Homo sapiens: one gene and its partners. The protein of the gene in region 4 interacts with the protein of the main gene of each other region in a pairwise test. Each region holds a gene or a part of one and is shown on either strand. Other genes may lie near its edges.

Region 1 (5,661 bases), on a different chromosome or scaffold from region 4:
GCCAGCATAGCAAAACCCTGTCTCTACTGAAAAAATACAAAAATTAGCTAGGCGTGGTGGTGCGCACCTATAGTCCCAGCTACTTAGTAGGCTGAGGCAGGAGAATCGCTTGAACCTGGGAGGCAGAGGTTGCAGTGAGCTGAGATCGCACCACTGCACTCCAGCCTGGGCAACAGAGCAAGACTCCATCTCAAAAAAAAAAAAAAAAAAACCCCACCAAGTTCTAACTACTGTCTGACACTTGTAAAGTTAACACCCTTCTCTGGGCTTTGGCTTCTTCACTGTAAAAATAAGGGACCAGACTGATCTTCAACAGTTTTTCTATTATTAAAATCCCATGGTTATGATCCAAATTCTTAAGAACGTAGTATACTTTACAAAAAACTCATCTCCCCAGCAACATATGCCAAGCAGTTCTATCTGTGCCCTTTACTTGGTGCAGGCAGAATATTCAACAGCATCTTATGTGCAAGGGCCAAGGCTGCTGCCTTACACAACTCGAGGGGGCGGCATTCCAACTGTATCCTGTGTAGAAGGTGCTGCTGTGCACCAGGGGATGACATTCACAGAGCACAACCTCGACAGCACAGGAGGCCCTTTCATAACACGGCTGTCTTCAGCCACGCTCTCACCCGCAGGAGTCCCACACAGGGAGAAAGGCAGGCAAGTTACAGGAAGCAGCAGAGCAATCACCTCCCAGACCAGAGGCGGTAAAGCCAAAAAGCAACTCGGGGGAATTTCAGCAATTACAGAAATGGATCAAATCTGATCATTACAAATCACTATTTGAAACTAAATTAGCAAGATGAATAAAGTTAATTTAAGAAGAAATCTATAAACAAAAAAATCAGATTATTACTCAAATATGGCAAAAGATCACTAAATGCAACTTAACTCATAAACTTCTGTTAACTTGCTTCCAATCCCAAATTAAGAAAATAAAATTTGGCAGTTTCTCTGAACCTACTCTGGTTCAGGGGTTGCCTGATTTTTTAAAAATACTTTAAAAAAATTTTTTTTAAGCATATTCCAAAGTACCAATAATCCTCTGCATTCCATCTTCAGTTTGTATCATACTTTGGTCCCACTAAGAAGCCTGTGTTTGGGGTGTAGAGCTACTCTTACATGGCATTATGCAAATAAATGCAGCCCCTTTGCTCGAGGCACCCACCCTCAACCCCCAGCTCAAACACCTGGGATCATTACAAAAGTTAAGAGCCCAAGTTTTTATTTCCTATTTGCCTTCTTTAAAAAACACCCTCTTCTGGCTGGGTGCGGTGGCTCATGCCTGTAATCCCAGCACTTTGGGAGGCTGAGACAGGCGGATCACGAGGTCAGGAGAGAGACCATCTTGGCTAACACAGTGAAACCCCGTCTCTACTAAAAATACAAAAAATTAGCCAGGCGGGGTGGCGGGCACCTGTAGTCCCAGCTACTCAGGGGGCTGAGGCAGGAGAATGGCATGAACCCGGGAGGCGGAGCTTGCAGTGAGCCGAGATCGCGCCACTGCACTCCAGCCTGGGCCACAGAGTAAGACTCCGTCTCAAAAAACAAACAAACAAAAAAACACCCTCTTCTACAATGATGCTGTAAGACAAAACATCAACTCTTTCCCTTTCTTTTCCACACCTAGGTATCAAAGCCCAGTTTTGTGGCTAATCTTAAGGTTGATCTTCTTCTCTTTTTTTGGTTTCTAAAGACACACTACACCAAATCTTAAGACAAAGGGCACTGGACCTTCAGAAGCAGGTCCACCCCAGTCTTCACAATCTAGTGCAGTTACTTTTCTTGTGTGTACTCTGCTGGCATTATTACAAAAATCAGGATATGGTCCCAGTTCCTGCAATTTTAGCACAGTGCTTATATACAATAAAGTTGACCTCTTTTTTAAAAGAAAAGTTGAGGGTTTTCCCAGGCACAGTGGCTCACACATGTAATCCCAGCACTTTGGGAGGTCGAGGAGGATAGACCACTTGAGCCCAGCAGTTCAAGACCAGCCTGGGCAACATGATGAAACCCCACCTCTAGAAAAAAATACAAAAATTAGCCAGGCGTGGTGGTGTGTACCTGTAGTCCCAGCTACGGGCCAAGGCATGAGGATCAATGGAGCCTGGGAGGTCAAGGCTAAGGTCAGCCATGATCGCACAGCGCCACTGCACTCCAGCCTGAGCGACAGAGCAAGACCCTTTCTCAAAAACAAAAACAAGTTGAGGGGTTTTAACGTTTAGGGGCTACTCTACTGTTTATCTAACTAGGGTGAACAAGTATGGGTCACCAGCACAGCACAACACCCACCTGCTGTATTATCTCCAAACTCATGAACATGGAATCCATGCAGGCCTTCAGTCAGTCCTTTAATGCTTCCCCACACCTTCACTGGTCCATTACTTTCCTTTAAGAAAAGTGCAAAGTTGGAGAGAGTTTCTGAACAAAGAAAACAGCTGATTTACCTTTACCCCTCACAGTGAAGTAAAAAGCAGCCAGACTTGGGAGTGGAAAAATCTGTGTCCAAATCCCAGGCTGACCACTTTCTAGCCAGTGAACCTCCAGCAAGCTGCTTAACTGCTCTAGGCCTGTGTCCTCAAAAGGGAGATGGTAATCTTGTTCCCACACTCAATGCACAAGCACCCTGTGGCCAGGCTTCATGATTAAATAACATAAAAAGCACCTAATAGAGTGGCAAGCAAAGTGAGTACCTACACATCAGTGTTAGATACTTCATAGGCTTTGACTATTACAGTAAATAGGTAATGTAAGTACCTATTTATGTAGTAAATACTTTTGAATAGGTTATATTTGTACATGTTGAATATACATGTACATGTAAACGTTTTTTATTTTGAGACAAGAGTCTCGCTCTGTCGCCCAGGCTGGAGTGCAGTGGCATGATCTCAGCTCACTGCAAGCTCCGCCTCCCGGGTTCACGCCATTCTCCTGCCTCAGCCTTTTTAACCCAAAAGGTGTATGTCTCATCCTACACTCTGGAGCCCCTTGCTTTTTCTCCACGCACACCCTTTTCCATATGGCATACTCACTTGACTTTAAAAAAAAAAAAAGAAAAAGTCGCCCTGGAAATGTCCAACAGGCTACCCTGGGACCCCTGCTCTCCACTCCCCACTCAGTGAGTGTTTTTAAGTGTCCATCATAAGTTTTTTTCTTTTTTTTTTTGAGACGAGTCTCGCTCTGTCGCCCAGGCTGGAGTGCAGTGACATGATCTCGGCTCACTGCAAGCTCCGCCTCCCAGGTTCATGCCATTCTCCTGCCTCAGCCTCCTGAGTAGCTGGGACTACAGGCGCCCACCACCACACCCGGCTAATTTTTTTGCATTTTTAGTAGAGACGGGGTTTCACCGTGTTAGCCAGGATGGTCTCCATCTGCTGACCTCGTGATCCACCCGTCTCGGCCTCCCAAAGTGCTGGGATTACAGGCGTAAGCCACCACGCCCGGCTATCACAGGTATTTTTAATTAGCAGTCAGAAAATATTATATTCCACTGCCCCCAGGAGAGGACTGATTCTAGTCTAACCAGACGTACTACTGCTTTCTGAAATCTTTTCAAGCACTGAAACCTAGGTAACCTTTCCACTCTACCAAAATGAAAGCAAGCAGTATAGCCATTCAGGTAATGGTGACAGGTAATGGTGCTCCGTGGCTACATACAGAAATCAAGGAAGTTACAACTAGATCTCAGGACTAAAATAAACACAACATCCACACCACACCGTCATACAACATGTCAGTGTCTCTTGTTTTTAGCTTGGTTTGTTTTCAAATACGGCCAACAGTTAAGGGGCATTAACCCTTAAGATGTGACTTTCCACTGGAAAATATCATTGCTCAAATGAAGTATCCTGGCAATTGCTGCCTTTTTAAATTCTTTTCTTTTTGACAATAGATACTGTGACTCTTCTACAACCTTTAATTTTGGAAAAACTCAAATGTGAAAGTTGTCCCTCAAACACTCTGTTATCAAGAGCACAGGGCCAAAAACAGCAGGTTCTTTGAAACCTCCATTTAACCGGTAATACATTCAGGACATCTAAGTAGCTGTGCTCGGGTACAACCCTGCAGGGACCAGGCTATGAACTTAAGTGAATAACACAGGCCTGGGAAGCGAAAAAATATATGAACTGCTACAGCAGTACTGTCCTGGGCTAATGAAGGCTCAGTATGAAGAGATCTCCAAAAATTCTTCAAGAGAAGCTAGGAAAACTGGATTAATACGTGAAAAATTCTGATCTGTAAAAACTAGCAAAGAGTCCAAGATTTTAAACACGGAATAGGCCAAGCCAAGTAGCTGATAGCCAATGTATTATCTCTGCATATCTGGAAAGCTGGAATGCTCCACTATCCAAGGCTCATTCTCAGGTACAACGGGCACCAAACAAAACGAAGTCAGGCGCTTAAAAGAAGGAACTATGCAAGCTGCTCAGGGAAGGTGGAAAACCTGGGTTCATGCATGGATTCTCAATGGCCAGGGAGAAGGGATTCCTCAGAGGCGTCTTAAGAATAGCACTGGTGGCCGGGCGGGGTGGCTCACGCCTGTAATCCCAGCACTTTGGGAGGCCGAGGCGGGTGGATCACGACGTCAACAGATCGAGACCATCCTGGCCAACATGGTGAAACGCCGTCTCTACTAAAATATAAAAAATTAGCCAGGCGTGGCGGCGCGCGCCTGTAGTCCCAGCTACCCGGGAGGCTGAGGCAGGAGAATTGCTTGAACCTGGGAGGCGGAGGTTGCAGTGAGCTGAGATCGCGCCACTGCACTCCAGCCTGGGCGACAGAGCGAGACTTGGTCTGAAAAACAAAACACTAGTACTGGTGAATTATGTGGGGAGAAGTAAAGAGGGACAAAAAGAAGTCTGACAAATGAAACAGCAAAATGGAGTCAAATGCCAAAGAACCTTTTCCAGAAAATCTGGAGACCTATTAAAGAAAAAGGCTAAACTCATTATCTCCCTCACATATATTTCAGACATTTACACAGACTAACTGTTCCTGTCCTCTCACGTTTCTGTAAACCCCTTTAAAGACTGAATCTCATTCGTATAGTAAATATTCCCTCATGATTTTTAAGCCGAGTGCAAGAGAAAATTTTCCACCAGTTGGTAACTTCACTAAGGTTCTGGGGACAGTGTTATCACAAGCACCTTCCTTGCAACACGTTTTGTAATTTTACTGATAAAAGTTCTGAAAATATTTCTGTATATTTTACAAGAGTCGTTCAGAAGTTTGTCTCTGACCATCTTAGCAACCTGCCTACTGGCAGAGCAATTTTAAAGCCACTTTACGAAAATGTGGCTTAAGAAATGCTCCGACAACAGTTATTAAGTGCCAATTCGGTGTAATGGAAACTCCAGGTCTTCTAATTTCCAAATACGAAACTCCACCCACTGTCCTCAAACGACAGTTCTCAATCGTAGGTGCACATCAAAATCACTTTTGGAAACTTTCAAAAAACAGCAATACTCACCCTGCACTAGGACAGGTTTTGATGTAATTGGTCGGAGGTTGGGCTCTGGTGTATTTTTAGTAAGATCTTCAAATAAGCTAACTGTGCACCCAAAGTTAAGATCACTGCCCTCAAAAATCCCCAAAAGGGTCAGTTAAACCTCTGGCTCCCGGAGCTTAGGAGGAGGAAAAGGACCTCTGTTCAAGGCT
Region 2 (8,395 bases), on a different chromosome or scaffold from region 4:
TCCCCTGTCCCATGTGGTTCACATCAGTGCTAGTCACCGCCTTGCGGCTGGTCTACCCCAAGAGACTTCCCCTCTTGTCTACACTGCACAGACTGTGCAATGAGGGCACCATGGCACTCACTGGCAAGCATCCTTAGGAAACCAGAACTCAAATGATGTAGGGAAGTTACCAAAGGCTGCTTAGTGCTGGGACTCAGAAGCTGCAAGGACGTATCTCTCCAGAACCATCAGGTCAGGTGTAGGGAGGCAAGAGATGTTCCAATCTAGTGACAAGGTCTTAGAGTGAGGGAATGTCTTGTCCCCACCATGACTCACCCCTGAGTTCCTCCCTATCCTGTATCTTCCTCCAGAAGTTTAGGGCCCAGAGTGTGGCTGCCAGAGTCACCTAGAGCCACTGCATACACAAAGGCATCCTACAACCCACAGAGCAGTCTTTCTTGCTGTAAAGAGGGGTCCCTAATCTGTCCCAGCACAGAGCTCGCCTTGTTTTGTTTTTTGTTTTTTTTTTGAGATGGAGTCTCGCTCTGTTGCCGATGGCATAATATCGGCTCATCGCAACCTCCGCCTGCCGGGTTCAAGTTATTCTCCTGCCTCAGCCTCCGGAGTAGCTGGGATCACAGGCGTGTGCTACCACGCCAGGCTAATTTTTGTATGTTTAGTGGAGACGGGGTTTCACCATGTTGGGCAGGCTGGTCTCGAACTCCTGACCTCAGGTGATCGACCCGCCTCAGCCTCCCAAAGTGCTGGGATTACAGGCGTGAGCCACCGTGCCCAGCCAGAGCTTCCTTTTCATGTCTCTGAGTCTTACAGCTCTCAATGGGAAATGACGAAGAACCCTGGAAAGCTAGGTGTGGCCTGTTGCCCACCAGAGATCAGCCTTTGAGAATGGACCCCTAGGCAGCTCCCCAGCTCCCCATAAAGGAGGGAGGGAAGGGGAGCCACCAGCAGAGTGGGCCAAGAAAGCAGACAGATGGGAATCGCTACTTCTACACAATCCATCATGGCACTGCCTAACGCCAGGGCTGCTCCCTAGAACCCGGACGGTCCTAATGTCAGAGAAAAACAGTGAACTAATGGGAAAGATCTGGCTTCTTCGAAACTCTCATTTGCATTTCCCAAATACCTTAATCACCATGAGGTCAAACTATAAACCTAAACGTGACGTAAGGAATGCCTTCTAGAAATCTATGCTAAAGAGACACCTCCAGAAATCTCAAAGAACATATGCATGATGTTATTTGCTACAACATTATTTTTACCAGCCAAAGGCTTCCAATACCCCCGATCCCTATCACCAGGGCACTTGCTGAATAAACTTATGGTGCGCCCACACACTGGAGTACTGTGCAGATCCAAAGGGACTAAACAAGAGCTCTAAGAACTGCGATGGAGTCATTTCCAGGATCCACTGTGAAGCAAAGGGAGCAAAGCGCAAACATATCTACTGCATTCTACCAAAGAAAGAAGGGGGGGTATTAAGGAAGGACACACCAGGAACTAATGAAATTGATTCCCTGCATGGGGTAGGGGGAAAAAGGTAAGGGTACAGGCACAGGAGTGAGGCCTAGCTGAACATGCCTCAGTGTAATTCTGACTTCTGAATCATGTAAATGTTTATATTACCCAAAATAAAATTCAAACTAAAAGTAACAAAACCTTATTACACTTAATGCAAATAAAAACAAATGAGTTCGGGCCAGGCATGGTGGCTTCAGCCTACGATCCCAGCACTTTGGGAGGCCGAGGCGGGTCGATCACCTGAGGTCAGGAGTATGAGGCTGCAGTGAGCCATGACTACATCACTGCACTCCAGCCTGAGTGACAGAGCAAGACCCTGTCTCTCTCTCTCTCTTTTTTTTTTTTTGAGACAGAGTCTTGCTAGAGTGCCATGGCGTGATCTTGGCTCACTGCAACCTCCGACTCCTGAGTTCAAGCCTTCTCCTGCCTCAGCTTCCCGAGTAGCTGGGATTACAGGTACCTGCCATCACGCCCGGCTAATTTTTGTATTTTTAGCAGAGACGGGGTTTCACCATGCTGGCCAGGTTGGTCTTGAATTCCTGACCTCAGGCGATCCACCCACCTTGGCTTCCCAAAGTGCCGGGATTACAGGCATGAGACACCACGCCTGGCCAAGACCCTGTCTCTTAAAAAAAAAAAAAAAGAAAAGAAAAAAGAAAAGAAACAAATTTAATTCTATATCAAATTGACAATATACCACAGAGAAAAGATTTATTTCAAATGACTTTTGACTACAGTGCTCTGCAAACCTGTAGTGGGACATATTCTAAGGCCAACAATAACACTCCAGGGGCAGTAAACACACTAGATTGGCTCCCAGGAGAGATATGTGATTCTGCTTCTGGGGCATCTTGTGCCAGAAAGCCCGGGGAGTGCAAGAGAAAAACAGGGAGGGCCCATGAGAGGCCTCTAGCAGTGGTCCAGGTGTGGCCCAGGGTGGGGGCAGTTGAGGATTTGGGGCTGGTCTAGGTGGTGAAGCAACAGAGCTCGCAGGTGGATTAGTGTGGGGGTGAGGGGCAAGGGTGAGTCAGGGACCATGTCCAAAGCCTGGGAAGATGGTGGTGCCACTGATTGAGAAGGAAAAGACTGAGGGGCCGGCTGGGTGCAGTGGCTCTCACCTGTAATCCCAGCACTGTGGGAGGCTGAGGCAGGTGGATCACCTGAGGTCTGGAGTTCGAGCCCAACCTGGCCAACATGGTGAAACTCCGTCTCTACTAAAAATACAAAAATGAGCCGGGCGTGGTGGCAGGTGCCTGTAAGTCCCAGCTACATGGAAGGCTGAGGGAGAAGAATCGCCTGAACCCAGGAGGCAGAGGTCGCAGTGAGCTGAGATCGCAAGACTCCGTCTCAAAAAAACAAAAACAAAAACAAAACCACTGGAGCGGCAGGGGAGCAACACCCACAGAGACAGTTATACCATCAAGGAGAGAAAACAGTTCTTCAGCTACTCGCTAGAAAGGGGGGAAACCCCGCTGTGATCAGATTCTGAGTTGGGCCTGAATGAAAATGAACTGTCTGCTTGGGGTTTTAAAGGCTTTTTATTGTGGTAAAATATACAAAACAGGTCAGGTGTGGTGGCTTACACTTGTAATCCCAGCACTTTGGGAGGTGAGGCAGGTGGATCGCTTGAGCTCAGGAGTTTGAGACCAGCCTGGGCAACATAGCAAAACCCTGTCTCTACAAAAAAAAAAAAAAAAAAAAAAAATTAGCTGGGCATGGTGGTGTGTGCCTGTAATCCTAGCTACTCGGGAGGCTGAGGCAGGAGGATCACTTGAGCCTAGGAAGTTGAGGCTGCAGTGAGCCGTTGATCATGCCACTGCACTCCTGCCTGGGCGAACAAACCAGACACATATATGTCTCAAAAAAAAATACATATATATATATATATATATATATATATATATATATATATATACACACACACACAAAACAAAGTTTACCTTTTTAACTATTTCTAAGTGTACAATGAATGAACTTTTTTTTTTTTTTTTTTGAGACGGAGTCTTGCTCTGTCACCCATGCTGGGGTGTGGTGGCGCAATCTCGGCTTACTGCATACAGGCTCTGCCTCCCTCCTGAGTTCAAGCGATTCTCCTGCCTCAGCCTCCCGAGTAGCTGAGATTACAGATGCGCACCACCACGCCCAGCTAATTTTTGTATTTTTAGTAGAGATGGGGTTTCGCCATGTTGGCCAGGCTGGTCTTGAACTCCTGACCTCAGGTGATCCACCCACCTGGGCCTCTCAAAGTGCTGGGATTATAGGTGTGAGCCACCATGCCTGGCCCTAAATGAACTTTTAAGAGCACTGAAGATGGGAAATAAAGGGTCTTTAACTCTACTGTAATATTCTAGTTCTTTCTAATGGAAATTACTTGAAGCAAATATAGTATGATGATTTTCAATTCTGTGCAATGAAAGGCACATGGGTGTTTGTTAATTTGCTGGCTGCTACTTTTATAATTAAAGACAAATTTCAAAAAACCCACAAAGAAGCCTGGATTGTGCTGGGTGTGGAGTGCAGGTAAAAATGATAAAAAACGTGGATGGAGCTGGAGTCCATTGTCTTCAGTGACACAGCTCAGACACAGAAAGTCAAATACCGTACGTTCTCACTTAGAAGCAGGAGCTGAATAGCATGTGCACATGGACAGAGTGAGGAATGGCAGACACTGGAGAGACTGGGAAGGGTGGGAGGGGGTGAGGGATGAGACATTACTTAACGGGTACAATGTCCACTATTCAGGTGATGGTTACACTGAAAGCTCAGACTTCACTACTATACAATATATCCACGCAACAAAACTGCACTTGTACCCTTTAAATTTAACAAATAAAAAACAATGATAGAAAACAGGTATTCCAAATGAGTTTACCCTTAGCCCAGAGGGCCTGCCCAGTCCCAGGGTGACCTGGGCATTTGCACACCCTCACTAAGCCTTCACTGCAGGACCCAAGGGAGGGAGGCTGGGCTAGGGTGCCAGGTGACTCCCCAAGGCTGTCCCCCAGGGGGTTTATGGTGTTTGCCGAAACACAAACTTTTTCAAAGAAACCTGCCAGGTGTGGTGGCTCATGCCTATAATCCCAGCACTTTGGGAGGCCGAGGCAGGTGGATCACCTGAGGTCAGGAGTTCGAGACCAGCCTGGCCAACATGGCGAAAACCCCATCTCTATTAAAAATACAAAAATTAGCTGGGCATGGTGGTGCATGCCTGTAATCCCAGTTACTCAGGAGGCTGAGGCAGGAGAATCACTTGAACCCAGGAGGCAGAGGTTGCAGTGAACCGAAATCGTGCCACTGCACTCCAGCCTGGGTGACAGAGTGAGACTCCATCTCAAAAACAAACAAACAAACAGAAAACAAAACAAAAAAAACCCCATACACCTCTCTTCATCCTCCCTCTAATCAGAACCCCCCACACACACACAATCTTGATTATGAGGAGAACTAAATAGCTAGTTCACAAGTTCATACATTTTACAGTTGAAGTATCCTCAGAAAAACCACCTATTCAACTCCTGAGTGTTACAGATGGAAAAAAAGAAGTTCGACTAGACAGAGGAACTTGTCTGAGATCACCGTGAGTCAAAAACACACGTGTCTGTTCACCAACTGCCTTCGTCCTGAGCCAGATCCTGCAGCATCCTTCCACCTCCAAGAACTCACAGTTTGGAAGGGAGGACAAATAGGTAACTACAACATAGTTCCAGCCTCCCTTCCCCCTGAAGAAAGCTTGCTCCAGGCACAGCGGAAGCACAGGGGTGTGGATAATGAATCAGGAGTGAGTGGGCTGTCAGGGCTTATGAGTTCCACAGGTGGGACAGAGGGCTCAGGGCATGCCAGGCCAGATGGGCAGAGGCGGCACTATCAACATGGTTATAGCTCCCACCCTATCACCCGTGTGACGCCCCTCCCTCGAGGAAAAAGTGACCAATGATGCCCACCCTGTGTCACCAGAGGCTCTGGGCCTAACCCTGTCACCCCCTCCCACCTTTTCATTTGGAGAACTTTCAGGTTCATCTGGAGAACTTTCATCTTTCAGGTTCAGTTAGGATGGCACTTCTAGACCGGGCGCAGTGGCTCATGCCTGTAATCCCAACACCTTAGGAGGCCGAGGTGAGCAGATCACTTGAGGCCAGGAGTTTAAGACCAGCCTGGCCAACATGGCAAAACTCCGCCTCTACTAAAAATACAAAATATTTGCCGGGTGTGGTGGTGTGCGCCTGTGGTCCCAGCTACTCGGGGACTGAGGCATGAGAATCGCTTGAACCTGGGAGGCGGAGGCTGCAGTGAGTTGAGATAGTGCCATTGCACTCCAGACCAGGCGATAGAACAAGATTCCACTTCCCAAAAAAAAAAAAAAAAAGATGGCACTTCTGAGACACCTTCCCTGCTCCTGCCTCCCTCCCTGCTCTATGAGCCAGGGCACCCGAGCCCTCAGTGTACTTAGAACACCCCACTGTGCGTGCCAACCCCCATCTCCCCGCTCAATGCATAATGCCAGGCACAGGTGCAACCCTTACTCAACACATGCTGGATGAATAACCACAACACGGACGCAGCGCTCCACGTGCTTCTTCTGATGGCTGGAGACCTTCGACCGTAAGCTTCTAGCAAGGAGAGGCTAGCTCAGTGCTGAAAAAAAGGTGGGCTCTGAATTGGTGAATAAACAAATGATGAGTTTGGGACATATCAGTAGTCCGTTGGACACTGGTGGCTTGGAGATGGCGGAAGATGAGGTGGAGGAAGTCACTGAGGAGGGCCTCAGTGCCCCAGGGACAGTAGCATGGAGGATGGTTACGCCAGAGGATGGATCGACTTCTAGCCATGTGGTGGTCAGGTATGCAGACACCTCTCCTGCTGAAACAACTACAACTGCCAAACTGAGTATCTTACAGAAGCTGCTAGAGAAGCCACCCACAAGCTGGCAAGAAAGGAAGGAATACACAGGCTGAAGAGCAAATAAAAGTACGGGGCCCTTTTCTGTGGAGAAATCTGGCAGGCACCACCTTAACACACGACCAAACTGAGCTCAGGCCCCTCAGTGCTGCTGAGATGAACCAGCATCACGAGTAGGAGACTGAAGCTTACCGTGAGGAGACAGCAGGAAGAGTCCAGAGAGGGCGTGCCATGCAACCACGGTCTGGACTCAAGATGATGAGAGAAAACAAGGGGGTGGGGGAACATTTCTGATAAAGGAGACTGAAGGGATGACACAATCGAATACAACACACAGTCCTGGACTCTGCATTCCAGGCTCAAAGGCTCTAAAAAAGGCATTTATGGGGTATGTGGAGAAATGTAAGGTTCTGTGTTAGCTCATTGCTAAACTTCCTGAGTGTCTTAACTGTACTGTCTGCTCTTAGGAAAGGCATGCTTAAACGTTTAGGAGTGAAACAGCACGAGGACTATGACTAACTCTCAAGTGATCAATGGGCTAGGGGAAATACAGTGCCAATATGGTAACATGTTTAAAAGAAGGGAGATGACATCAATATAATCAGAAGCTATGCCAACTGACAGTAATATTTTGAAGCAGTGGTAGGCAAGCTTTTTAACAATTAAAGAGAATGCCTTCATATTACACAAAGACATTAAGAAAAAAAGCTGAAGGCTGGGCACGGAGGCTCACACCTGTAATCCCAGCACTTTGGGAGGCTGAGGTGGGCGGATCACGAGGTCAGTTCGAGGCCATCCTGACCAACATGGTGAAACCCCCTCTCTACTAAAAATAAAAAATTAGCCAGGTGTGGTGGCGCGCACAAAGGGACCGGGGCGGTGCTGGCGGCGATGCCAACAGACCTCAGTGTACTGTGGGGTTCTTTCAGCCAGAACTGTTCATGGTTTCATCAGTGAGCTCCAGTTACCACACCACACAAGTTTGGAGTGATCCACCCCGCCCCAGTTTTTCCTGCACGAACTCATGTTTTTATTGTGTGATTTACAGAACACAAGATCTTTTTCTAAGAATGCACACATCACACGTTGAAGCAGAAAGGCCTTTACAAAATCTTAAAATACCTACAAAATATGAAGTAAGGCTCTTAAGAAATAAAATATTCAATGATTTTGCTGCTAGAATGCAAACATTAGATCAAATCCTTCATTTGATCTAGCAAAGGAAAATTAGAGTTGCAGGAATCTTGTTTTCAGGCCAAACCATGACATCCTGAGGGGTCTGATGGCAGGAACTGCCTGCATTTTCCTCATGAATGTGACCTGCAGTGATCTTGTGAGAAAGGCCCGGAAGGCCGTGCAAATTACAGGGGTACAAGCAACAGCTGGCAGGTGTGGCCAGACAGGCAACTGCAGTTAAGGAAAGACTACTCAATCCCTGAGGTTTTCAGATTTTACAAAAAGGCAAAAAAGCCAGGTGAACAAGGCAGATGAAAGGTATTTTTCACTTGAATTGGAATCCAGCCCCCTCCCTGTCCCCTGGAGTGAGCTCCAGAGAAACTTCCAGAGCCCCAGCAATATCCCAACCTTTCGTAAATTCACTCATGCTCGCCACTTTCAGGAGATGGCATTTCTCAGCACCTTTCACTTCCAGTTATCCCTCGGCACAGCACAAAGAGCTAAACTACCACTCGAGGCAGTTAACCTAAGGGCAGGGTGGTGGCTACAGCTCCAGGTGAACAGTCTGGGACCAGAGGAAATAATGAGCCCCCCCTTGTACTGGCTGCTTCCACCCTAAAGTGTCATCCAGATGGTGTTTCCAATTCTTTCTACTTCCAGTATTAGCTGCAGAATTACGGAATCAAGGAGGCTTCTCTGCATGAATCAATAAAGGCTATAGCACTTTGAGACACAAGCTTTGGCCCTTTAAAAATGTGAGAAATCAAACTGGCACAGGCAGAGTGTCTCAGTGGTCTCCAGGGAG
Region 3 (8,395 bases), on a different chromosome or scaffold from region 4:
TCACATTTTATAATCTGTCTAAATGGCAAAAAATTGATGGCCAAACCCCAATAAAAGAAGCAATTAGATTTTTTAAACTCTCACCAATTTTTTCCAAACAGCCTACATACAAATGGTACAGCAACAGAAAAAAAGGTTGAAAATCAAAGCTCACTATTGGCCCATATTTTAAATATGTAAACTCAAAATTTTATATCTCTACATATATGTATACACATATTATCATACACAATCACACACTCCTCTCCCAGAATCCAGCACACTACTTCTATTTCATATCACAATACTCTTTTGAAAGTTGAATCATATAGTCTAGTACTTTCTAACCCTTCACGTCAAGACATTAATAGAAAACAATTGTTTTGACATTCTGGTGTTCAGGACTAAGGGGATCACTAACTCAGCATCTTTTCTTAGGGCAAGTCTGTTAGGGAAAACGAGGATTTCTAGCTGTTTGCCAGGGCTGGTCCTTGTCTATCGTGATTTATAATTCTGTCTACAACTTTCTAGGTGACCTATTATCATTAAGACTTACTATCTGGCATTCTTAAAAATTATAGATATATCCATATTCTAATATAAAAGAAGAGCGGGCATTTCAGACAAGTATGTTAACTTTCTCATATTAGGAATTCTAAAGGAAATATATTCTCAAAAGACATCTAATCATGGCTCACTTGTGACAGATAAAGTAATTGTGCTATTTCATTCGGCAGTTCTGAATCAAGGACGTATCCCTGAATCTGGGGAGCTCTCTATCAAAATATACATGCTGGAACCCTACCAAAGGAATAATAAATCTGGAATGAGGCTCTGACTGTCTAATTAGGAAAAGACTCCTTCCTGGAATTCTGCACATCTCCCTACACCTTAGTGACGGTTAAATAAATAATTATTAAGCTTCTGGATATTTTTTGTTGTAAGGTTAGGTGTTTCATGGGTTGGGGGGAGGGGCAGTAACATTAAAATAAAAGTCCCAAATGTAAAGTGCAAAGAATCTTGAGTCTATTCCCTATACCCTACACTTCCTGCCTTTCCCCCACACAAATCCAACCCTAAATATAATAGGACAATATATAAATACATATTTTTTAAGAGATAGGGTCTCACCATCTTGCCCAGGCTGGTCTTAAGCTCAAGCAATCCTCCCACATCAACATCCTGAGTACCTGGGTCTACAGGCATGCACCACCATGCCTGTCTTATTTTTTAAATGTTTTCACTTTCAGTTTCTTATTTATTTTTATTTTGCTCTGCTAACGTGCCACTCAGCAAGATTTCCAACAGGCTTACCATTACTAAAAATATGATTTTTTCAAAATAATAACATTATAATTAGAAACATATACCTAAATCATTATAAAGTTGGCTATTTTAATTTAAAAAAATGTTAAGTAACTTCCCAAGAAATACATAATTTATCGAAGAAATAACCACCTATGTTTACTCAGGATAGTAACTCACTAAACTTGCTTTATAATATTTTTCATAGGGAAAAACCAGTGTTATAGTACTATACAATGCAAATAAAATAAAATATCAATAAACTAAATCTAAAATTTGCATTTAGGATTCTATTAGATAAATTGAGGACATTCCTATTCTCTCAGAAAGATGATTGTCTAGCCTAAGAGTTATAACCAAATTAAGTTTAGAAAGTGGTAAGAATGAAGTACAACAAAATCTCTGTTATAGTCAGTCAAGTAGAAAATGCACTGATTTAGAAATGAATTCAGTCCTAGCACTACCGCTCAGAAATCATAACTTAATAATTAGAAGAGGTCTACCTGGTTCAAAACTTTCATTGCCAATGAGGAAGTTCAGAGAAAAATCAGGTGTCTTAGTTCTAAGTCAAAAATATTTTCCATTATATAACACAGCTTAATGGTTATGTGATTCTCATCAGAATCAAATAGTATGTGGTTTGTGTATGGCACTTTATAAATGATATGCTGTAATACATCACCACACAAATGTAGTTATTTGTATTAACAGGATACGAATAAACTTGAAATTTGTATTACTGCTCAAAACTATTAGGAAAAATGAATATTATATGAATAGAGTAACTTTGAATAAAATGGGTCATCCATAGCATTTCTATAGGTCGTTGATTCCAAAGTAGCATAATCAAATTGTATAAATATCACCTATTATACAGATTTTTCTTACAGCCTACAGCCAAAGATGTAAAATATTAAAAATTTTCATACTAGTGAGCAGATCTTCTTTTCTGTAATTCTAGTGTTTAAATATTACATTAATTTTCAGAATATCTTGACACTAAGTTATACACATTTGGAATCTTTTATCTTTGACCATTTCCTTCAAAAGGAAAAAAAAAAACACATACCCTCTTTCACCATAATGCCTTCCTTATTTCCTGCAAGGTTAGAAATCACCTCTATGCATTAAGGGAATGAACAAAAACACAAAGACAATTCAAGGAAACATACAAATGGCTAAAGGGCTCCAAAATCCTAGATTCTGACACTGGAGATGATCAGAGTAATTTCTATAAAAGGAAATTATCATACACAATCTCTTCTCTTTTAGAACTAAGGCAAAAATGAATCCAGTACCTTGTTCATAGCAGAGATGGGCAACCACCCATTCTGCCTTTGGGCTAAATCCAGGACTGGAAGAACAGCTGCTGCTTTATGGCCTTCTGGATAGTTTTTTACAATTGCCTCTATCCTCTGTATAAAAGAAAGAACATCATTTTATACATCTAGAAAATATTACCTATTTGGTAAATTAATTATAATGTTAATTTAGCCATACCTTATAGTTTTCTGGTGTGAAATCAAATGGAGTATCAGGGTTATTCTCAGGAGTATCTCTGTGCTACACAACAAAAACAGTTTTTCAGACTTATCCAAATTCTCTCAAGTGTGAATGACACTGTACATTACTATACTATTACTTATTGTTTAATCTCTCCATTTTAATTCCAACATGATATATACCACCCTATCCTTCCATCAAAAAGAATGTCTAAACACACATTTGATAAGTATGATTACCAAAGTAAAGTTAGCAGAATTTAAAAATTTACAAAGGACCATTTAAAGAATAAGAGAAGTACCTTTAGGACCAAAAAAACCCAAACAACAAAAAGTGTTATCCAGCTTCATTAGAGAGTAAGATCTTCTGATAGAATTACCAAAACATTACCAATTATTGGAAGCCTTTATGAAATTAAAACACAAAATTTTAAATGTGAACATATGTGTATTTTCCCAAAAGCAAGGTTATCAGATTGTCAAAGGGATCTGGGATCCAAAAGGGTTAAGACCCATTACTTTAGGAGGGTACAAAAGGACCATCTTAAAAAAAAAAAAAAAAAAAAAAAAACAGCACCATCTCTTTCCCACGTTTTCCATAATAGCCAACAGCAAGAAGCTTTATCTCTTCTTAAAAGAGCAGAAGCAGGCCCTCTTCAAAAACTGACAAGAAATGGCATGTCAACAGGAAATCAAATGAGTCACACTGAGATTAACACTTACGATCAATTAATGTTATGTATGTGTGGTGAATACAGAAATGAATCTCTTGATATGTTAACTCTCGGAGTTCTGCTTTTTAAAGGACATAAGCCAAAAGAGGAAAGAAAACAGACACTCTGGACAATGATCTCAAATATGTGGCCAATTTGATGCTTGATATATAGCAGGAAGCTACTTCTTACACCACTAACTCTAAATCATCACACAAGTCCACTATATTGCCTTTATACTAGATTAATCCCTGAAAACAGCACCTTGTCAGAAAAGGGAGATATAATATCTTATCCTTTCCAAATTGTGCAACTAATCTGGGGAGTTCACAGACTTCTATTTATAGTTAAAACTCCGGAAACTAAAAATATAAAGACCAGCTGCTAATCTAGTTACTACATTACTAAAATCCATGAGTTTCAAACTAGTGTCATTTTGGGATTCAACAAGTTACAATCTCCAAACTCTCAGTAAGCCAACATGACTGAGAACCCAAAGTGTGATGAGAATCAGGTTAGGGCTCACACAGTAATTTCACTGGAAATAAATTCTTATTCCCAGAGTTTTCCTGATACTAATTTAAACTCATGAGGTTCAACTGGAACCAACATCTTTTGAAATGTAGTAAATTCAATTAGCTGTATGTAAATTCTCACGATGACCATCATATATCAAAGACAATGGTATTTAAGATATTTTGGATTTTTACAATGGATTTACCCCAATTTCCAAGTCTTTTCTTTCCAAAGAAATCTAAGTAATTACTTACCACAAATAAAGCTCCTCCAGCTCCATTTTGCATAACTGTCTTATGCAAATTCCTTACATGTCTTCCCTAAAATTTAAAATTTTAAGAAAGTTTAGTAAATCATAGCCTTAAAAAATTTTTCATAAAGAAATACTTTAGGATTCATAATTTACAACAATGGAATCAACTTATAAAAGATCTTAAGAAATATGGTATTCTACCCTATCCATCTCTATTTCAGGAGAGTTATTTTACAAATGGAGATTCAAAGCCAAGATTCACCCACCTAACATCACACACACGAGTCAATAGGAGAACCAGGACAACCCAGATCTGCTGACTTGTGTACCTTCCTGCCACGCTCTGCTGGCATGCATTTGGAGAATTAATGTACTATTAACTTCTTGACTTTCACTTTTGTCTGAATCAACTTGGATGCCAGCTTTCACTTAGTGTGAACCTTCATAAACATGTTTTCATTCTGTACAAATGAGTCATATACTCTGTACAAATGAGTCAACTGTATCCTCCTTCCTTTTCAATCCTTTACTAAATTAGTTCTGAAACTCCAGCCGTAAAAAGTAGTTTCTGGCCGGGTGTGGTGGTTCATGCCTGTAATCCCAGCACTTTGGGAGGCTAAGGCAAGGAGATCACGAGGTCAAGAGATCGAGACCATCCTGGCCAACATGGTAAAACCCCATCTCTACTAAGAACACAAAAATTAGCTGGGCGTGGTGGCGCACGCTGGTAGTCCCAGCTACTCGGGAGGCTTAGGCAGGAGAATCGCCTGAACCTGGGAGGCAGAGGTTGCAGTGAGCCGAGATCGCGCCACCGCACTCCAGCCTGAGCAGCAGAGCAAGGCTCCGTCTCAAAAAAAAAAAAAAAAGTAGTTTCAGAAAGCTATTTATGATGCTATGCGGACTGACAATGTTCAGTTGCTTTGGAAGGAATCTGATTATTCTCTCAGCTGCATTTCATTTCTCTTTGCCCTCTTGCTCCTACCCTCCACTCCTACCCTGTCCCCCGCCCCCAAGTATTTCAACTACTGTTCTGGATTCCTCCAATTTCTGAGTTCTACTAACCACAGACGGCAGAACACTGGCTGGGTTAAACCAAGCATGGAACTAGCAAAGAGTTGGACAATTCAAAGGCAAACATAGAAGAAAGTAAACGGAGTAATATAACACAATAGTATATTTAACTTTACCCTAGGTCCAAATGATATTTCAGTTGAAGAAATATTAATAAATAAGTTTACATGGAACATCTGCTTTAATTAACAAGAAAAGACTAAGGTACAGGATGTGAGACACACGTACAAAAGATGGGAGTGATAAATATCAATTTCAGGATAATTGGAAGGCAGGGAGGGATACAGTCAGAGGTGCACAAGGGGGCTTTGATTGTGTTGGTTTTGTTTTGAAAAATTAACTGAAACTAAAATTTAGAAGACAGTCACTGTCATCTTAGCTCAGAAAATTTTTTTAATCGAGTAACAATTTTTGAGTAACATCAGTGAGTTACTTAACTAAATTCTGAGAGAAAAGACTGTATACTTATAATAAAAGGATTAATTTTAAGAGTAGGGAAAGTATTCAGTCTTCTCCTAATTTCTGAACACTAACATTTTCTGTTTATTGGCTTTTTATCCACTCCTTGCAGGCTGTCCTCAGGGCTCAGTTCACACTCCTATCTTCTTTTCTCTATAAAGCCTTTGCCTCTGAGAACTCATCCATTAACTTGACAGTGATGAGTCTTAAATCTTACACACATTTGATGACAAGAGGCTAATAGCCTGAAGAGATCATAAATGCACTTAAAAAATGAGTAAAGATCATGAACAAAAGTTTCACAGAATTCAAACTGCTTACTAGTAACTAAAAACATACAACTTAAAATAACATTACTAGTTATCAAACTACCAAGTATCTTTTTTCTTTTAAGATAGCATTCCATTCTGTTGAGCATATAGAGAAACAAGCACACTTAAAAATTCATATAGCCTTTTAGAAAGCAAATTACCATGATATATGGAAAGCCTAAATAAGTGTCTTTTTTTTTTTTTGGAGACGGAGTTTCGCTCTTGTTGCCCAGGCTGGAGTTCAATGGCATGATCTCGGCTCACCACAACCTCTGCCTCCCGGGTTCAAGCGATTCTCCTACCTCAGCCTCCCAAGTAGCTGAGATTACAGGCATGTGCCACTACGTCTGGATAATTTTTTGTATTTTTAGTAGAGACGGGGTTTCTCCATGTTGGTCAGGCTGGTCTTGAACTCTCGATGTCAAGTGATCTGCCCGCCTCAGCTCCCCAAAGTGGTGGAATTACAGGCGTAAGCCACTGCGCCTGGCCCCAAGTGTCCATTTTTTAATTTAGTAATTCTAACCTAGGTATTTTTCCTGCAGTACAAAATGAGGATAAAGCTTTACATGAAAACATGTTGTTCCTATTATGTTTATTGCAGCAAAAACACAACCTAAAAACCCAATCTGAGCAGGTTTTAACTAAATACTAATAATTCTGACACTAGAACGTTATGTAGCTAACAAAAATATGTCGTAAAAATAATCATGTAGAAACTGGAATCAGGGTTAAACAAAACAAAAAAAACAAAAATGCATAAATTATCATCCCAATTACATTAAATACAGACACTGATTAAAAGACTAGAAGGCCATAAATAATTAAAAGTGCTTATCTCTTATTACGATGTTAATGAAATAAGGGACTCTTATTTTACATTTTTTATATTTTTCTCTATTTTCCAAATTTCCTATTAGCATGGATTAACTGGCCAAAAAAATCCTACTTAAAATAAAACACTCAGCAGGTATAAGAAAAACTTATCTCTATTGTAAAACCTATTTCTCCTTCTAACCTCCTTGTATATCAAATTAAATACCACCAAATGTCTAAATTAAAATAGCTTCCATTTTGGATTAATATTTGATCCCTTTCTCATTAATCCAGGATCTGTCATGTACTTTTACTTAAAATAAAAATATAGAGATAATCTTGAAAATTATTCTTTAGGCTTATGTTGCTACATATTGGAAAATCTATTCTGAGGCATTCTCTTGCTGACTTGTAAAGCTCTGGATACGCACATGAGTTCACAGACATATTTCTAAAAGTGGTTTGAAGTCCAAATCGTTGAAGACAGACTACTGATTGAGAAGGGTCAGGATAAAGTAGCTAAACTCTAGGAAAAAAACAGACTTTCAGATTTTTTGTAGTTGTTGAGGCCTTGGGTTTAGATTACCATTCTGCCACTTACTAACATCTGACCTAGAACAACTCACTTAATTTTTTTTTAAGCCTCAATTTCTGTACCTATAAAACAGGGTTATCTTCTTATTGGACTATTTTGAGATTTAAGTAAAGTTTCTCTGAAAGTACTATATAACCTGTAAAGCATTATCACCTGCTTAACTGACACAAGGATAAAACATTTAATAACTAAAAAAAAAAAAAAAAAAAAGATCCAAACAACTGCATTTTAAAACTACACCTATTTTTAAAAAATTGTGCTGTTAGTTGACTTTATCAAAGAGTTACTGTCAAACACAACATACTGCCAATATTCTTGCATTTGCACATAATTATTTTTTCTTTATATCCATATGTATAATGCTTATACTTTTTCTAGTAAAATTATAATGTATTTGATGGTTAAAAAACCATCTACTTCTCCACTGAAATTAATTCATAAATTTCTCTTTTAGTTAAAGAAAGTGGGGAAGGAGGAAGAAATAGGCTGGTAGAAAGATTTCCATGGGTCTTAGGTTTGTGCATTTGGTGAGCAGCAGCACTGAACAGCTTTTGTTTAAGACCATCTTTTCTATTATTTTTGTATAAAATACCTTCTCCTGGGGCAAAAGTTGAGTGAGTTTTCTTACAGACAGGGTTTCCCAAGCTCAAGGTCCCTTAGCAGTGATGCACAGCACTCACCTAGGCTGTTCCATGTCACTCCCATTGTAGCAGGACAAGCCACAGACAAAACCCCTCAGACACTGAGAAGGAAGGGCTTTATTCAGCCGGGAGCTTCGGCAAGACTCTTGTCTCCAACAACCGAGCTCCCCAAGTGAGCAATTCCTGTCCCTTTTAGGGGCTCACAACTCTAAGGGGGTCTGTTTGGGAGGGTCGTGA
Region 4 (8,440 bases):
CCACCACACCTGGCTAATTTTTTGTATTTTTAGTAGGGACAGGGTTTCACTATGTTGGCCAGGCTGGTCTTGAACTCCTGACCTCGTGATCTGCCCACCTCGGCCTCCCAAAGTGCTGGGATTACAGATGTGAGCCACTGCGCCCGGCCAACAACTGCATTTCCTAGAGATTCAAGTTGCTTTATTTTCCCTACAGAAAAAGGCACTAATTAGCACAGATGACCACCCCAATCACCAGGTGAATTAGGTACGCTGTAAGTGCATGTATAGCAAACGACGCTGTGGAGCTCTCTCTCACCTGAGTTCAAGTCCTCACACATGACAGCATGTGTGTAACGGGTTGTAGCTGCTTGACTACATAAATAGGGGGATTTCTGACTGTCTTTATGATTGCGTTAGCTGATAATGCATCCATGTGTTTAATGCTTATTCAATCACAGAACTAGTATTTTCTTTATTTTCTACATTTGTGGAGAGAATATTCTGGGTTGGCAGGAGATTTTATTTAAAATAGTTTTTTTTCCTCGATAGCACAAGGTCTGTCTTCCAAGTTGCCGTAGGCAACAATTTTAGCAAACGTTCTGCTGTGACATAAAATGCTTTTCCTTACTGCCCAGCCCCCAACTGGTGATACTTTACCTGTCTGATACAGCATCACTCCATTTCAAAGAACCCATTTCTGTGTGTGTTAGAGTAGGGTGGGTGATGGTGTACTAAGTCGACCTAGATGTCGCATCCCCTTCATGCAGTAAAAGTTTATTCCTTGCTCGCGGCGTGGTTTGATGAGAGCCAGTGGAGTTGAGGGCTTATTCCTGATCCAAGCAGTCAAGGGCCTTCAGGTCGCAGGTTCCTCTTGTCTTGCAGTACTGCCATCTGCAACATGAGGGAGGCCTCAGAAACAGGAACCACACGGCAAGTCACCAAACCTCTAACCCAATCTTGGAACCTACCAATCTTGGAACCTGCAGTGGGTCACAGAAGGGAAACCAGCCAGACGTCAGCATGCTGCTGAGACCTCGGTCAATGAGTCACACCTGGGCTCTTGTGAATTACAGAATCAATGTTGGAAGCCCAGGAAGCCAACTAATCAGGTTTGGAACCCAGAAGCCTGGTCGTCTTGGAGTCTGGAGAGGCTTGAAGGCTCCACTGAGCCAGGGATTTGGCACCAGAACTCTTGGGGTCAAGTCCTGGCCTACCTCTGACTAGTTGTTTCCACTGAGACACATTATTTCTCTCAGCTTCAGCGTCCTCCTCTGTGAAAATGTGTGTTCTACATACTGCTTGAGATGATTTCAAGGCTTAAGGGAGATAATGTTTGAGGAAATGTTTTGAAAGCTACAAGGCACAAGACAAACACCACTTAATATTACTCATCTTGTCTCTGCAGAGACATCCCTCACTGGGCCAACTTCTTCCCATCTGTGCAAAGAGTGGGGAGAGGTAGACACTGAACTGTTGTTCCTTCCAGTGCTGCCGGGTGGGATTCTAGCCATGTAACACCCTCCCTCTCTGAGTCTCTGGGCCCCCTCATCCTGAGCCTCCAAAGTCTGGAAGGTTTCATAGCTCATGTGTCCACCAGATGACAGTGGAAGGGCTCAGAAAGATGCTTCCAGAAAGTCCTTCTCCACAAACACTACACAAAGTTAAGACCCTGTTCCCACCCTTGGCTCAGACCCTAAAAGAGAGAGTCACTCTCATTTGTCTTTACCCCACTCAACCCCACCCTGGCTTTGGGATTTCTCTACATTCTGTATTTTGTCCCCAGCCTGTTAACTATAGCTTCACTGCTGAGCCATCTGTTCTAGACCACGTTGCTGCCTCTGCCCACCACACACTTCCCTGGAGCTGGACCTGATCAGCCAGAAGAAGCATCTGAAAAGGAGCATCTCAATTTCAGCACAGTCGACCTTAACAAAATAACTTCAGGAAGTGCACCAGCTTGGGAACCAGGACTTCGGGGTTCCCCTGCTTCTGTCATCAGCAGCTGCACAGGCTTATCTGAGACTTTCTCTCTCTGGGTGTGCACCTATAAAATGCCAGGATTGGATGCAGTGACTACTGCTGTGGTTCTGAGATGGGGAGCTGGGGAGCTGGGGAGCAGGGCTGGGAGGAGAATCAGTTGGGTGAACTCCTGGCTGGCTGAGCCCTGCAGAAGTGGTCCTGGGCTTCTCCTTCCTTCAAGGCTTGACCAAGTTCTCTCTGCTTATGTATCCATTCTGTCCTCTTGCTGGGACAGGTGCTTGTTGACTGCCTGTTGACAGGATCATGGGAAGCAGTTTCTCAGAGAGGAGACAAGAGGAGCGGAACCCCAAGTCCTAGTGGAAGAGCCTGCAAAGGTGCCCATATCCACTTGGCCTTGGCCTGAGGCCTCTTGCAGCCACTGAATGGGGACCTCTGACGTTCACTTCCTTGGATCTCTTGAATTCCAATCTCCCTCTTCCCATCTGTGCATTCCAGCAATGGATCTCATTGGTTCACCTGCTCCCACCATGAAGTCATCTGAGGGTTAAATTCTGTTTCAATAATATACTGGGAAGCTGACATTCACATACACACATTTTATTTTTCATAAAATAAAGGATAATGTGCCCACCCATACCCTGTAAGTTTCATAGCCTAGAAGTCAGTTTCATAGCCTAGAAGTCTTCCTAGTAGTCAGATTTTCTGTCCCCCAGAGGGAGAACTCCCGCACCCCCAGTTCCCAGGGGGCCTGGTGTTTGAGGAGCTGCATCAAGCTGCATCTTCTTACAAGCCCAGGGGAGAAAGGATGTGTTTAAGGGTAGAAGTTGTTCATTTTGTTTTCCTTTGCAAGATTTTGATAGAATCTAGTATAAAGGCTGTCTGGCTTAGCTCAGAATGCAAGAAAAGGTGTTATTCTTTCGCATTTGGGCACTTCACAGAGGGCATGGGCACTCCCCCATCTAAACAGGCTTGAAAAAGGACACAGACCCAAGAGAGGCCCTTGCGGAGGCCCAGCAAAGAGTGGTTCAGGATGCACAGACAGGCTCTCTGGGGCTGTGGGCCAGGAGTGGGAAAGCCACCTTAGTCCTGCTGGAGCAGATTTGGGAAGGGTCATGGGAACAAGTTTCTCTGCTCTGGGGTCTGGGCCACAGTCTACCATGTCCCATCTCTCTGGTTCTGCCCAGTGTTCCTTCCTTCCTGTCATCCCCAGCACCTCATCAGTGCTCCCCGCTCCTGAACACCATGGTCAATCATCCTGGGGCTTCTCACATCTGTGAAAGAACAGGTCTCTCGACCACCTAGGGGTAGACTTCCAGGATGGTGCCTGCTTAACTTTCCTACAATCCAGGGTCATCGGGGAAATGAGCCAGGTGGGGAGGGTGGAGTCTCACTTGCAGCCAGAAACCCTGGGATGTAGCCTATCTGTGACAAGGGCAGATCGGCAACCATCTGCAACCAGAAACAGGCCGGGTGTTCTATCCACTGCCCCCAGATGCTGCCTCCCAGGTTCCAAGAGCCACCTTGAGTCCCAGCTCAGCTGCCACCCAGACACCGAGCATTCGACCAGGGCAGTGCAGTACATGGCGGTGCCTTGGAATCCCTGGCATCACCCTCCCCCGACCTGCCCCTCTTCTTCATCCCCACCTGACATCTCTCCTGTCCTTCAATACCTCCTGGGGCTGTTACTCTTCCTGGAGAAGGGGCTCTCGGTCCCCTTCCAGAAGCCTCTCATCCTCCTCCTTCTCCATGCAGCCCACTGTGGCAGCCAACCCAGCACCCACGCCACCCCCAACCACAGCGGCCCCTGTGGCCCCCACGGCAGCTCCAGCAGCCACCATCCCAGCCTCTGCAGCCAGTGCAGCTGCTGCCATGCCAGCACCCACCACGCCCCCTGCCAGGCCCATGAGCCCGGCCCCCACAGCACCCCCCACAGCAGCTAGGTGGCCACAGAAGCGCATCGTGTAGGAGTCCATGAAGGCCTTGGCCGTGGCCTGCAGCTCAGCTTCCAGTGCCTCCAAGGTCTGATCTCTCCCCTTGCAGAGTAAGGCCACACCATGGCGGGCCAGAATGGCATCTTTCTGGGTGGAGAGGAGGTTCCGCATGGTGTCTGGCAGGACCCGCAGCGCAGAGAATATGCGCTTGGTGGCTACGTCCTGTGACAGGGAGGGGAAAAGAAGGTGCCCTGACCAGGAGTCCCAGGTATCCTCTCCCTGATCTGGACCCTGCCCGGCCCACACCTGCCTCCCGTGCAGCCCCGGGGCTCACCTGCTGCCTCACATACTCCTCGAACTCCCTCTTGGCAGCTTCCACCTTCCTCAGGTCGTGCAGCTGAGCAGCCATCTGTCCACGGGAAAACCCAGGCTGCCTCCTTCCTTCCTTCTCAGCCAGGGGCGCTGCTTGTTTCCTCATCTCCACTCCCAGGGCACACAGACCCCCACCCCGGAGGCCTCGGCACAGCCCCCACCTCCCTGCCTCCCCTGTCTCCCTGCCAGAATGCTGGATCCCCCAGCGCTCATACCTCATCCGGAGAGGTGAAACCGGGCCCTGTCCTCCCCATCCATCCTGAGAGGTTCTGCGGAGATACCATCGCTGGGGTCAGGGAGAGCAGGGGCCCAGCCGAGTCGCCTGGGTCTCCAGGGAGTTTTCACACCTTGATTTCCTGAGCTAGCTGCTGCCCCGTGAGTAGGCGTCTGTCCCCCCTGGCCACGGCGCGCCCCTCGTTCCAGTACCCCTGGCAGCGGCTCTTAGCGTGCTGGGGGGCCGCACTCAGCACATCTGAGACGTAGGCCCCCAGAAGGTGGCGGAAGTCATCATCTGTGTCTGAGGGAGAGATGTGCATGCTGAGAGACTGCGGGCTTTGGGAGGAGAAGGGGTGTCAGAGGCCAGGAGAGGTGGGTGCTTCAAGGGGCTCGGTTGCCGGAGGGGAGCTGGGAGCAGCGCAAGAGAGGTTCAGCTCTCAGAGACACTCACCACCAGGGCTTGCATGGCCTTGGTTCATCCGCCGCCTCCCTGGGGCAGGCAAGAGGCAGCAACGGGCTCGCTTCCCTTGCAGCAGCTCCTGCACCTTGGGGTATCTGCCAGACAATCTCTGTGAGGCAGCGAGAGGAGTGCTCTGAGCTAGGAGGTCCAGCCTCCCATGTCTTCCCCACCTCTGCCCTGTCCATGGCCCCTCCACCCCATCCCCTTGCACCACTCACCTGGAAGATGTTGCCTACATGCCCCTGCCCTGCCTTGTTGGGGTGGGATGAGTCACGAACTAAGAGGTCCAGATGCTGAAAGAGAAGGGGTCCTGACACCAGCAAATGGGGGTGGCGGGGCCTGGGGCCAATGAATCCAGAGATAGGTGTCTCACCTGGATTGGCACCATCCCATAATGCTTGCCCATCACCTCGGCCACGTGGACAAACATCTGGGGGTGGGACACAGAAAGCGTCAGGGCTGGGCCACTTTGAGGACTATGGTGCACCCCAAGCCTGTCTCCCCACCTCCCTACGCCTGCTGTAGGAGCTAGGCTCCCCCTTTTGCAGCCTGGGGTTCTCCTGCCTCTCCCCAGACCACACATCTCTTGCTTTACTCTCCACCCTCCCCCTTCAACCCTGTTCAAGTGTCATAAAACCCTAGGCCAGACCAGGAGGGCACCTAGTTCCTTTGGGTCCAGCCCTAGTGGGGAGGGTGGGGGTGGGGGATGCCCCAACATCAGAGGTCTCTTTACCTCCAGATAGTCCAGGTCTGTATCCTTCAGCTCCTGGGAGGTGCTGAGGATCTGGAATCAGAGAGAACAACATGTATGAGAGATTACAGAGGCCGGGTGACTTCACTGGGGAAGGCCCTGGTGAGTAGGGAGCTCGCAGGCAGCCTGTGGGCCTCAGAGTATGGGAGAGGCCAGTATGGGGGCCTCGAAGGCTGCAGGGCTGGGCTGGCCTCAAGGCCGGAGACAAGCCTGGAGGGTAATGTGATCCATCAGGTCTTCAGCTGCCCCTGGGACCATCAGCCCACTTTTAGGAATAACCCACGTTCCCACCTTCACCAACTAGGAGCACCTTCCCCCTTCTAAGGCAGCCCCAGAACCTATCAGGACCCCAGACACCAAAGCCTGTGAGATGCTCTGGCCTTGAGGAAGCTGAGCTGGAGAAGGGTGTGTGGGGTGGGGATGCCAACATCAGCGCCCCCCATCACCTGGTAGGAGCTCAGCATCGTGGTGAGAGCACAGAGCTTGATCCTTGTTTCCCTGCTCAGCTCAGGGCTCATGGCATCCCCTGTGTCCACCAGGAACACCGCCACCTATGCAGGGGGTAGGGAAAGACCCAAGGGGCCAGGCCTGCCTTGTTCTCCCACATTCTTCCCAACCCTGCCCCGTCCCATCCCCATCTTCTATCCTCACCCCAGAGACGCCCTTCTTGATTCCCCTTCCCATCCCTGACCTCCTTCTGCCACTTCCCCCCTCACCTTCTTCCCTTCTTTCCCCAGCAAGAAGGGGTGGCTCCACATCCATATGCCCCTGGCGAGGCCATTGGCGCCCCACCTGCAGCCCTGCAGGGATGCCTCTCCTCCTCTTGGCCGGCCGCCCTCACCAGACTCCTGCAGGGGAGAGAAGGGAGAGCATCAGTTGGTCGGTTCCTTGTCCCCACAGACCGGAATACCAGACCCAGCTTCCCCCAGGCAGGAACCCCCATCCTTGCTCCCCGCCTCCCTCCTGCCCCGCCCCGCCCTCACCAGGCCCGGCAAGCCCTGAAGCAAATGGTTGAGGAGGAAGGACTTCCCTGAGTGCTGCTCCCCCAGGACAGCGAGGAGGCAGACTGGGGTGTCCCTGGCCAGAGGGTGCTTCAGGCAGCGGTTGATGGCCCCCATCCTAAGGATGAGGCCCCCAGAGGCATTGATGCGAACCAGCAGCAGCGGCTCCGCCCTCACAGGACACGTCTCCTGGGCCAGGAGAAGAGAGGGGCCCCTGAGCATCCAGGACCAGCTCCTGACCCTGGAATGTGTTCAGCCTGGAGCTCTGTGTCCTGATGTTCTAGAATAGGGCCAAAGCCACCCCCTCCTCTTGGGTCTGACTGATTAGGCCCAGTCCCCAGACCTGCAGTGCAGGGGGCAGCGGCCGCTGCGGCAGGAGCTTCATCTTCTCGCCCAGGCTCCGGAGGCCCCTCTTCTGCTTGCATATCTTCCGGCACTCAGGACAGCAGGGCGGCTCACAGCCCGGGAGACGGTGTGTGCTGAAGCACCGTATGCAGAAGTCGTGGCCACAGTCCAGCGAGATGGGGTCGCGCAACCTCTCCAGGCAGATGGAGCAGGTAGGGAGCTCCCGGGGCGCCATGGGCTGGGGCCCCAGGCCTAGCTCCAACTTGGGGAAAGGTGTATGGGACCTGTGGGGCAAAACAGGCCATTGAAAAGCAGGATGTCTATTGGGGGCAGGGGGTACCGGCCAGGGTTGTGGTGGAAGACTGATGGCTTGGGAGTGGAGGTCCCTTTGTGCCAACCCAATTTCCATCAGTGCCTCCATGGACAGGCGGAGCTGCTCCCAGAGAGGCCAAGCTCTGCCCGTTCCTCACTGACATGTGTCCTAGGACCTGGGGGCCTCAGAGTGGGGGCAGCAGAGCAATGGTGAGAGAGTCTGAGAGGGAGAAAATCTGAGTGGAATGGACTCCACCACATCCCAGCCATGCAAATGCAAGCAAGTTCCTTCCCCTCTCTGGGCCTCAATTTCCTAACTGTCCCAATGGAGAGGATAGCAATACCCCTCATGGGGCCGTTGGGGTGGCCATCCGAGAGGAGGCGTGTGCAGCTGTCTGCACAGTGCCTGGTGCAAATGCTTGGGAAGAGCCTCTCCCGGCGTTCTACAGCGGGGCTCCCTCCATGAGGTGCTGACTTCAGCCAGGCCCCCAGGGATGATACCCTCCACAACCCCATGCTACAGGGACAGTGAGGAGAAGCCATCAGCCTGTGCTGCAGTTGGGCAGATGGCTCTGGATCTTAGAAGATTCCTTCCGCTCTCTGCTCTGAGCTGGCATCTGCCTCCCTGCAGCACCCACCTGCTTCTTCCTGTCCCTCCCTCCACAGCCTGGCGGATCCAGCCTCAGGCGGACAGCCCTCCCGGCTGGGCTGCCGGGCTCTGTGTTCCAGGACCGGCCATTTCAACTGACCTGCCTGGCCTCACTGCACCCATCCCAGCCTGGAAGGCCCTGCTACTTACCAACTGTTGCCGCTGTTTCCCATGAAGCTCTGTTTTCTCTCCTTGGAGAAAAAAAAAAAAAAAAAAGATTTAGAACATAATCCAGACTTCTATCTTCACCCTGGATTTCCAGGGACCCCTCATCCTCCCCACCCCCGGCCCATCCCCCAGCCCAAGGAGGGCCCTTCCCACCCCACTCTCCTTCCCGATCTTAGGACTGAAGACTTGCCCGTTTGCCAAGCCGATGACAAAAGGAAGTGACTGACAAGGCGGGCCTTGGCATGGGAGGCTGGGATGGGGAGAGGGTCCGGA

The links.
Region 1: the proteins of RNF112 (region 4) and SOD1 interact in binary tests that used the Homo sapiens proteins (3 or more experiments, as listed by UniProt).
Region 2: the proteins of RNF112 (region 4) and MECP2 interact in binary tests that used the Homo sapiens proteins (3 or more experiments, as listed by UniProt).
Region 3: the proteins of RNF112 (region 4) and NDUFV2 interact in binary tests that used the Homo sapiens proteins (3 or more experiments, as listed by UniProt).

The regions. Positions count from the first base shown.
Region 1 is NC_000021.9:31,660,521-31,666,181, reverse strand, and holds part of SOD1 (superoxide dismutase [Cu-Zn]), read right to left. Parts: intron 2,393-5,661; coding exon 2,296-2,392; intron 1,877-2,295; exon of another isoform or gene 1,700-1,876; intron 1-1,699. UniProt on the Homo sapiens protein: Destroys radicals which are normally produced within the cells and which are toxic to biological systems.
Region 2 is NC_000023.11:154,033,754-154,042,148, forward strand, and holds part of MECP2 (methyl-CpG-binding protein 2), read right to left. Parts: intron 6,151-8,395; exon of another isoform or gene 6,039-6,150; intron 3,109-6,038; exon of another isoform or gene 171-3,108; intron 1-170. UniProt on the Homo sapiens protein: Chromosomal protein that binds to methylated DNA. It can bind specifically to a single methyl-CpG pair. It is not influenced by sequences flanking the methyl-CpGs.
Region 3 is NC_000018.10:9,113,778-9,122,172, reverse strand, and holds part of NDUFV2 (NADH dehydrogenase [ubiquinone] flavoprotein 2, mitochondrial precursor), read right to left. Parts: exon of another isoform or gene 4,535-8,395; intron 4,336-4,534; coding exon 4,270-4,335; intron 2,848-4,269; coding exon 2,785-2,847; intron 2,700-2,784; coding exon 2,583-2,699; intron 909-2,582; exon of another isoform or gene 717-908; intron 1-716.
Region 4 is NC_000017.11:19,411,380-19,419,819, reverse strand, and holds the end of RNF112 (RING finger protein 112), read right to left. Parts: 5' UTR 8,412-8,440; coding exon 8,358-8,411; intron 8,350-8,357; exon of another isoform or gene 8,321-8,349; intron 8,191-8,320; coding exon 8,150-8,190; intron 7,323-8,149; coding exon 7,037-7,322; intron 6,883-7,036; coding exon 6,676-6,882; intron 6,541-6,675; coding exon 6,409-6,540; intron 6,244-6,408; coding exon 6,139-6,243; intron 5,726-6,138; coding exon 5,675-5,725; intron 5,372-5,674; coding exon 5,315-5,371; intron 5,235-5,314; coding exon 5,160-5,234; intron 5,075-5,159; coding exon of another isoform or gene 5,051-5,074; coding exon 4,933-5,050; intron 4,783-4,932; coding exon 4,613-4,782; intron 4,535-4,612; coding exon 4,481-4,534; intron 4,303-4,480; coding exon 4,228-4,302; intron 4,116-4,227; coding exon 3,645-4,115; 3' UTR 2,544-3,644; downstream 1-2,543. UniProt on the Homo sapiens protein: E3 ubiquitin-protein ligase that plays an important role in neuronal differentiation, including neurogenesis and gliogenesis, during brain development.